Linked DNA regions of Homo sapiens. The protein of the gene in region 2 interacts with the protein of the main gene of each other region in a pairwise test. Each region holds a gene or a part of one and is shown on either strand. Other genes may lie near its edges.

The links.
Region 1: the proteins of HTR2B (region 2) and SLC37A1 interact in a two-hybrid assay, tested with the Homo sapiens proteins (one large-scale study listed by BioGRID and IntAct).

What each region holds. Positions count from the first base shown.
Region 1 is NC_000021.9:42,512,085-42,516,874, reverse strand, and holds the start of SLC37A1 (glucose-6-phosphate exchanger SLC37A1), read right to left. Parts: upstream 3,024-4,790; 5' UTR 2,158-3,023; intron 2,006-2,157; exon of another isoform or gene 1,940-2,005; intron 1-1,939. UniProt on the Homo sapiens protein: Inorganic phosphate and glucose-6-phosphate antiporter. May transport cytoplasmic glucose-6-phosphate into the lumen of the endoplasmic reticulum and translocate inorganic phosphate into the opposite direction. Independent of a lumenal glucose-6-phosphatase.
Region 2 is NC_000002.12:231,114,617-231,118,703, forward strand, and holds part of HTR2B (5-hydroxytryptamine receptor 2B), read right to left. Parts: intron 1-4,087. UniProt on the Homo sapiens protein: G-protein coupled receptor for 5-hydroxytryptamine (serotonin). Also functions as a receptor for various ergot alkaloid derivatives and psychoactive substances.

The DNA.
Region 1 (4,790 bases), on a different chromosome or scaffold from region 2:
AGTAAAGAATTTGGTTCAACAGTGTCTGGAAACGGATGGTCAGAAGCAAACGTCTTCCTCTCAAGTGCTGCTTCTCCATGTCCAGCGTGTCTGGAAACATTCCATTGCCATCTACTAAATAAATCAAAAACCTCCAACTCTGATAAAACCTGTGACAACAACATCAAAGGCCCAGAAGGCACTGACAAATCAAGAAGGGAAAAAAAACCTCTTTGATTTCTTTTTAAAACAATGATGGATTCTTTTCCCTGTAAAATGGGTGAAAGAAAAGTGCTATAAATTCTCATAGTGAGTGCAGTTAAGATGTGCAAAGACAGTGATTTTACATTTGGGATGTTAAGAGCTCAACTAATGAGGCCCTTCCTCCCTAGCCTGTGCAGCACCACTAAAGACCACTTCATTTTGAGTGGGTCAAGACCTCTGGAAGCACGAACCATGACTGACATGCTCTCATTTGAGCCCCGTGACCACCCTGAAGAGGCAGGGCGTTCTTTTCACAAGGGAGAAAAATGAGGCTAGGCGGCTCGCCTGGGTCAGCTGGATAAGTGGGGCAGATTCCAGTTTGTCCTGTTTCTCTGAGCCACCTCCTCCCTCCAGCCACTCTTCTTCCTGCCCATCCCCTGCAGAGAAAGGGCAGCAGAATGGGAGCAAATCACTTGGTTTAAACCCAGTTTTTGGCACACTGCCCAAGTACATAAAAAGAAGAGATACTTTTTTAAAAAGTCACTCTCTACAGGCCCCCCTGGAACTTACCATTCCAGGGAGGAAAAGCGGCAGAATGTCCAGTTTCATTGCACTGTCAAACACAGCAACTTAGGCCAGGCATGGTGGCTCATGCCTGCAATCCCAGCACTTTGGGAGGCAGAGGCAGGCAGATCACTTGAGGCCAGGAGTTCGAGACCAGCATGGCCAATATGGCAAAATCCCATCTCTACCAAAAATACACAAAAGAGCTGGGCGTGGTGGTGCACACCTGTAATTCCAGCTACTCGGGTGGCTGAGGCATGAAAATCACTTGAACCTGGGAAGCGGAGGTTGCAGTGAGCTGAGATTGCACCACTACACTCCAGCCTGGGCGACAGAGCGAGACCCTGTCTTAAAAAAATATAAAAAGATAGTAACTTAGGAAACAGCCCATTAGAGCATCTTTATTACAACCTGTAAAACCTGCACATGTACCCCTGAAACTAAAAGTTAAAAAAACAAACAGACTCTGAAAGACACATGGTTTTATACCTATTTCTTCAAAAAACCCACCCTAGGCAACTGTAAAACAGAATAAGCTGAGGAAAGAAACATTCACAAGCTCCACTCCCAGACCCACCCACATGTGATCTGCGCTGCCTAGAAGGTTCCAAGTAATCTGCAGAGACTCAAATAATGGGGATAGGAAGTGAGCAATAGCAGGAGTAAGGTTCCTCAGTCTTTTTAGGGCTGAGGTGGCATTACACATAATCAAAGCGGCCCCACAGATATTTTAAATAATCTACTTTATGACATTTTTTTTTAACTGGGTCTCACTTTACAGGCAAAGATGGGTGAGAAATGCAATTCTCCTCCAAAAGTTTTCATGCATTTTTTCTTTTCTTTTTTTTAAATTACGAGATAGAATACAACTTCCTGTCCAGAGTGTGCTCTTTCTATGGCTTTTTGCTTTTAAAGGCGCTTTCCATATTAAAGATGAATGAAAATGGTCACTATCTCTTTCCCCTTGGCTGAAGTACAAGGAACCTGAATTCCATTTGCACCACCTCCCTTACCTGCCTCCAACCCCCAACAAAGAGAACATCACAGGTGGGCTGCATGAAACAGAACGTGTAAATGCAGGTCCAAAATGACTTGGTGAATCACAGGTCTGGGGCCAGGTGTTTTCAAGCTTGCTCTCAAAGGGGATTAATAAAAAAACAACGGGGGAAGTCTAAAATATTTATCCACTTACACAACTTCAGACGATTTAAGTTCAAGGGCCGGCAGGCAGGCAGGCAGGCACCTTCCAGGCAAAGAGCTAAGGGAGACCCGGAAAGGGCAGGCTTTAGCAATTCCTCCTTTGGAAATTCAAACCTGGGGCCGCGGGCTGGGGTGTTAGCGGGGAGTGGGGGTGGTAAGGGGCTTGGCCAGTATCCTTCGTTCAAATGCAAATCCTTAGACTGAACGTACCTTCTCGGTCACCAGGATTACGGCGTGGGCCGTAAGGGCTGGAAGGCTGGTGGCCAGCGGCGAGGGGACTTTCCGGCGCGTCAAGCCCTTTATTATAAACCCAGAAGGTCGCTGTCACTCGCATTGGCCAGGAGGCCCACGGGCTCCGGGAACCAGCTGCTCAGCCGACAAACAACGCAAAGGCCCAGGGTGCCGGCGCTCCGAGCCAGCGTTCTGTGCCGGCTCCTCCCTGGGCGGCTGGTCCCCGGAGGAGGTGAATTCCGCGGGCACGCCCACGTCCCCATCGCGGCAGACAATGCGCAGGGTCCCCTCCTGCCGGCTCTCTGGACCCTCAGCTGTCACCGCGGCCCGGGCCGGGGTGGGCAGGGGACCCGGCTGGACAGCTAAGCTCGCCCCTGCCGGGGACTCCGTGGAGCGGCTGCCGGCCCCGTGCCCGCTCCCTCTGCCTCCACTTCCCCGGAATCCCAGCGTTGCCCCGGTCCGGGAACGCCCGGCATTGTCGCCGAGGGCCACTCTTCTAGATGTCGTATTTCAAAGACTTCCCTCCGCGAAAATAGCTTGAGACCGTCCCCGGCTCTCGGAAAACATCCAAACCAGCCCCCACCTCCCCCCGAAAAAAAAGAAAAGGAAGGAGAGGAGCCGAGCTCCGAGTGCGCAGGGCCCCGCGCCCGGCTCCCTGAGGGCGCCGCAGGTGCTGAGCGGCTGCGGCGCCTGAGCGCCGGCTGCCCCGCAGGTGCGGGCGGGGGGGCGGGGGGTCCCCGCCTCCCGGTCCGGCCCCGGCCCCGCGCCTCACCTGCGCCGCCGAGGCCCGCGCTCCGCAGCCCAGCCCGGCCCGGCCGCCGCGGGCGCTTCCTGCTCGCGACTTCCTGGAGCGGCGCGCGGGAGGCCCCGCCGCCCTTTCACTTTCCCTGGCCCGCGGGGCGCCGGCGGAGCCGCGCGGCTCCTCCCCCTCCCCGGCCGCCGCGACCCCCGGCTCCGGCCCCGGCCCCGGCGTGCCCAGGGTCGCACCAGCCCCGGGGCCACCGGGCGGGGGCGCCCCCACGCCTTGCGGCACTGCCCGGCCTTTGCGGGCGAACCCGGGTCATGGCCCGCGCCTTCCCCGGCTCCGAGGGCGCACGGGCTTTCGCTGGCGCGCTCCCCACCGGCCTCCGGGCAGTCCCAGGCGGCCTCTGCACCCCTGGCGCTCTGTCCTCAAGGCAGGTCTTCCCCACAGGCGGCGAGGGTCACATGCCGCCGCGCCCCCACCCCCAAAGAGGGCCTTTGCTTGGCCTCCCGGCTTCTATTCCTATTGTGTCATGTCAAGGGGCACAATCATGAAGACTAGCACTCCATAGCGTGGAAATGCGGCACGCGGATTTGGCTATGTCGAACCAACTTGTAAGCCAACTTGTGTCCCACCTCGCAGGCACGTGACAGAGGCAGCTCCCTGTTAGGCTGCGGGAGCCCGCCGGGTTCTTACCCTTGCGGGCCAGTGCCCTGGCACACAGGCTCCCACGTCACCCCAGAAACAACTCTTCTCCTTAGGCAGCCCCAGGGAGGGGCCTGGCCAGTCCCCTAGAAGCTACTGCCGAACACCCACAGTGGACCCCCAGGATGGCTTCAGAGCAGAGGGGGCTCCCAGCCCACTCCTCGGGGAAGAGCAAAGTGAGGCAGAGCGGAAATTTTCCGGGGAAAAAGCCTGCCCCCGGATAAAACAATGTTTAAGGATAAAACCAACCCGAGGCCTGGCTGTAAATGTCCCAACAGGCCAGTGCCCCTCGCACCCTTCCCCAGGCACGTTGAGCTTCCCTCTGGAGAATGGAGAAGGCATTCTTCCCTGTGTTTGGCTCCCCTGCCCTGCTAGGCCTCGCAGTTTCCCCCTGGGGCCCTGCTTTGTTTCTAGAACACTCTGATGTCTGTGTCTCTCTTTGCTGAGCTGGGCTGCGTGAAATCCATCACTTTGTTAGGCATTTGAGAAGCCTTCTGCAGGCAGAAAGAAAACCTGCCCACTTCTTTGCCACGCAGGGTTCAGCCCCAGGAAGCCCGCCGGCCCCTCATTCCGCAAGCGGGATGGCCCAGGGCTCCAGTCTTCTCCTTTTGGCCAGGTTTTCTTCAGACCTTCTTTCTCTCCGCAGGCCCCCTGTGCCAGTGCTTTCTCCTCTCTTTTCTAGCTCTCCATTCCCGGTGATAGCCCAGTGTGGCTCCCACCCCTCTCTCCAATGGTCTCCCCAGCCCTGGCCCTTGCCATTGGTTCGGCTCGAGGCTACCCCTCTCTCACTGCACTTGTGCAACAGCGTTCTCACTTCCAAGTTCTACCTCCTGCAATCCACTCTTTAAGCTGCCTCAAGTTGCCCTCCTAAAGCAAAATCTGATCTTGTCATTCCTGATTTTCAAACCTTTCGGGCATCCCATCACCTACAGGTTTTACACTTGAAAGGCGATAATACAAGCTCAGGATATATAGGACACCTCGGCCTCATATGGAGACAGCTTCTTCCCACCCCCCCTCCCCCCCACCCAGTTGTACTGACGTATAACTGACAAATAAAAATTACATAATTTGTAGTATAGGATGTGATGTTTTGATATATGAATACATTGTAAAATTATTGCCACAGTCAAGCTAGTATATCCAATCACCTCACATTATTTTT
Region 2 (4,087 bases):
TGAAAAGAAAATCTCAGGGTTAGACGTAGTACTTAATTTATTTAACAAACTCTTATAAAACACTGCATACTTCATATAGTCTTAAGCACTTTAGAAATATTAACCTTAAAAAAATTTTAGGTGTGGATGTGATATTGAATATTCTGCATAGTTTTCTAATAAATTTACTTACACAGATGTTCATACATATGTGAATTTAATATATTATGCATTATATATTACACCCACCACTTAACATGTTTACAGTTTCAAAACAACTAAAATTTTAGAATTCCCCCTAGAATATTTCCATTAGAATCCAGTTTAACTCCTGTAGAGAACAGATGTCATGCATGTGAGATTATCTAAGTCTCTTTTAGGATTTGATTGTTATATGTCCACTGATAAAATGTAATCTACTTTTCTTCTGGCTATTGCAGGTATATCTGACTTTGACAGGTATAAAGTGATTGTCATAATTGAAGGAAAACCAGAATAATCATCTCAGGATTACAGAACAACAAGAGACTCTTCTATTGTTAACTGTTTAAAATTTAAGGAGCCTGGGGGTGGAGAGAGATTAAAATCTCAGACCAAAAAAAAAAAAAGCATAATTTAGGGGCAGAGTTTTTAGATAGATTTGGCTGTTATTTTCAAGCATCAAGTAGGAGATTTTTTTAAAGTCAGGTAGGATTTCAGTGAAAAATATCTGGGCACTTGACAAAGTATCCAGAAGGTAGCAAGGCTGACACATCTACTTTTTGGTGCCTTCTGTTTCCAGAGTTGGTATGTGGCATTCTGAATAAGAATATTAAAATATTTCTTCCTAGGAACAAAATAACAAAATCAGCACAAACTTTTACTCAGAAAGAATAAATGATTGGGACTTAGTTCTATGTTCAGCAGCTTCTTAAAAAGGGATTAAAGCATCAAGTGGAAAGGGTCATTCATACTTTTCAGTGTATTACTGTAAATAAACTTTGCCTGCTTGTTGAATTGGGGGTAGGAAGGGATAGAGGTGGTAAATTTTAGATTTATTGAGCTGGAAGGAACCTTAGAGATTACCATTGATCTTGCAGATGAGTAAATTCAGGTATAATTAAGTCTGAATATAGAGGTAAGGAGGGGAGGCATTTATTTATTGAAATGTAAATGTTATCTGAAAGTGTTATTTAGAACTGCCACTCAGAGTTTGCTCTTAAGATGGAGAGTGAGGATCGGCATCACCTGGGTACTTAGATATGCAGGCTCTTGGGTCTCATCTCAGACCTACTGTATCAGACTCTGCAGTTAAATAAGGTTTCCAGGTGATTCGTATGCAAATTAACATTTGAGAAGCAGTGCTTTGGAAGACTTTCTGGTAAGGTTTGTGTCTGAGTCTTAAAAGATGCACCTAAGTTTCCTGTTGTAGGGTTGGTTATAGGCACTTGGAATGTCTCATGGAAAGGAACTAATGGGAGGCCTCTCAGAATAAATTAAGTCAGAGAAACTGGTGTTTGGAGAAAATCTAATCAATTGGATTTTCTCACTCTTAGCCATAGCATTCAGATTTTTTGTCATTTAGTGGAAAAGGACCTTGGACACAGGCAGCTTCAAAGCGAACTAACAGTCTAAGTATAGTGAAAAGAATCATTTTAGAGTTTGCAGTGGAAACTACTAAAAATGAGGGTACATCTTGAGCTGAAGTTCTAGATTTAGGACTGTAAGTAGGGTGGTAGGAAAATACTCGTCTAGAGCTATAATCAGAGATATTGATTGCAGTTAAGGATTTAAAAGGCAGGTAATTATTGTGTTATATCTTAGATTTCCTTCCTTGAAGTCCTTACTCTCTCTGTAACATCTTTTAAAATAGTTTGCCAACTATTTAAACCTGTCTATTTAGCTATTCTAGTTATGGATTATACTTCTGAAGATTAAGGTTTGGAAAATTCTAGTCATAAATCTAGTTGCCATAAGCAGGAAGCCATAAGAAAATTCATATAAAAAGTACGTGTCTTTGGAATTTGACCATCTGATCCACATACTCCTAATTGTGGGCTAAGAAGGAAAGTTTTTTAGTGCTGATTTAAGTAACCCTATGAAGCCCTGTTAGCCTCACTTTAAACAGAATTTATAAACTCATTCCCACTTAAAATTCACTAGAATTTTCTTATTACAGTTAGTGCTTTATTGTTAACAGAAATATTGAGATGTGATACAGAATTTTCTTTAAGAAAGAATGAGACTGAAATTTATAAGAGAGATGAATCTTTACAATTCCAAGCCTTTCTCATTTCAAGTTTCGTGAAACACTGGTGGATAGTTTTAATGAAACTAATATAAAAGAAAAAGATAACTGCATTAAATTAATAGAAACCTTATATACAACACAAAAAAGAAAAAGAGGCTTTTTTAAATGCCTAATATATTTGGGTAATCTAAGAATTTATAGAAATTAAAAACAGTTCTAGACACACTTGTTTTATAAAGGGGCTTTTCCTAGTCTAGAGACTTTCATTCTAAAATCATTTTTTAGTTAGTATTAATTTAGCTCAAAGTCAGAAAAGTTTATTTCTGTTTAGAATAACTAAATTAAAGGTTAAGTTGGTATGGTGAAATACTTTATTTCAAAACGTTTATTTTAGGAGTTTTGGTTTTAAGAATTTCTAATTACATTATTTGTTATAATGTATTCTGTCCAATATACTTCCACAAAGACTTAAGACATTGAAAATTTGAAATAATGAAGTGAAACAGTTACATACTTAAATGGAAAGAAAGAAATGTGTATCTAAGGGTCAGTCTGAGGGAAACAAGTTACTAGGTTCTTCAACTAAATTACTGTTATTCTGGGGCTCTAAATTAGACTCTTTCATTAAAATTAAGAAAGAATAATAGCATTTCTGTCAATGCCTGAAATAATTACAGACTGAATATTAAAGCAACAAAACAAGTCCTAGATGGGTCTTGTCTTATAGACAATTGTTTAATTATCTAAAGAATATCAGTAGCACAAATATTTTATTGTTTAAAATGAAGACTGCTTTAAATTCTGCCATGCATGAGGGATGGTAGGAGTTGTCATTCAGTTATATAAATTTTTATTTGTCTCCCAGACAAGGTTCAACAACTTCATAGGTATGGGCCTAGGTCTAATACCTTCCACAGAAAAGAGATCTTGCAGTCATCTGAAGGATTTGTACAAGTATAGGTTGACGCACAAGTATTCTTTTCCACTTAATATGAAATATAACTTTAACTGAAAAGAATACTGAGTTCTAACTTGTCCCTAGGGGGGAAAAAATTCTGTGATCCTCTGAACAGTTACATGGGGTTATTTAAGGTATAAATGTTGGTTCTGTATGCCAAATATGACAGTTTTGGCTGGTCAGATTTCTCATTGACATTTGAGAAAGCGGAATAATAAAGGTTAAGAGTGTGAATTCTAGAATCAGTCCTCCTGGGTTTAAATCATGTCTCTGCCACTTACTTTGTAATCTTGAACAGATTACTTATCCCTCTGCTTCTCTGTCCTCTGTAAAGTGGGGATAATAGTACCTGTTTTATAGGATTTCTTTAATAGAGTTTATATGGATGATGATTAAATACATGTGAAGTGTTTAGAACAGTTCCTGGCATAAAGAAAACACTCAATAAATGTTAGTGCTTATTACTATTGTTTAACAGAAACTAGCCAACTAACTCAACCATGAAAACACTCCTACATAGAAACAAGCCAAATCATCAGTATGAAATAAGAGTGTTTGTCTTTCTACCTGCTGTAGCAAAAGTGCATGCATCTGATTCAGCTTAAAACTTTAAGCTGTACTTTCCGGGGGTGAGGGAGGATGGGCTGAGAACAGTTAACTCTGTTTAACTTTCAATTGAATTTGTCATAAAAGTATGTTTTTTACTAACGTTGAATTTTAACTGCTGTTTATTTTATATACGGTACAGGAAAATAACCTGTATGCATTGCATGCCTGGGTTTTTTGTTGGTTTGGGTATTTTTTTGTTTGTTTTTGCTTTCTTTTGAATTAGTACAAAAACCTGAGGAGTTTTACTAGAAACCCCGTATCTTGATGAGGCAGACTTATTTTATCTGAAACCTGCTTAACCTTTGGGCAGC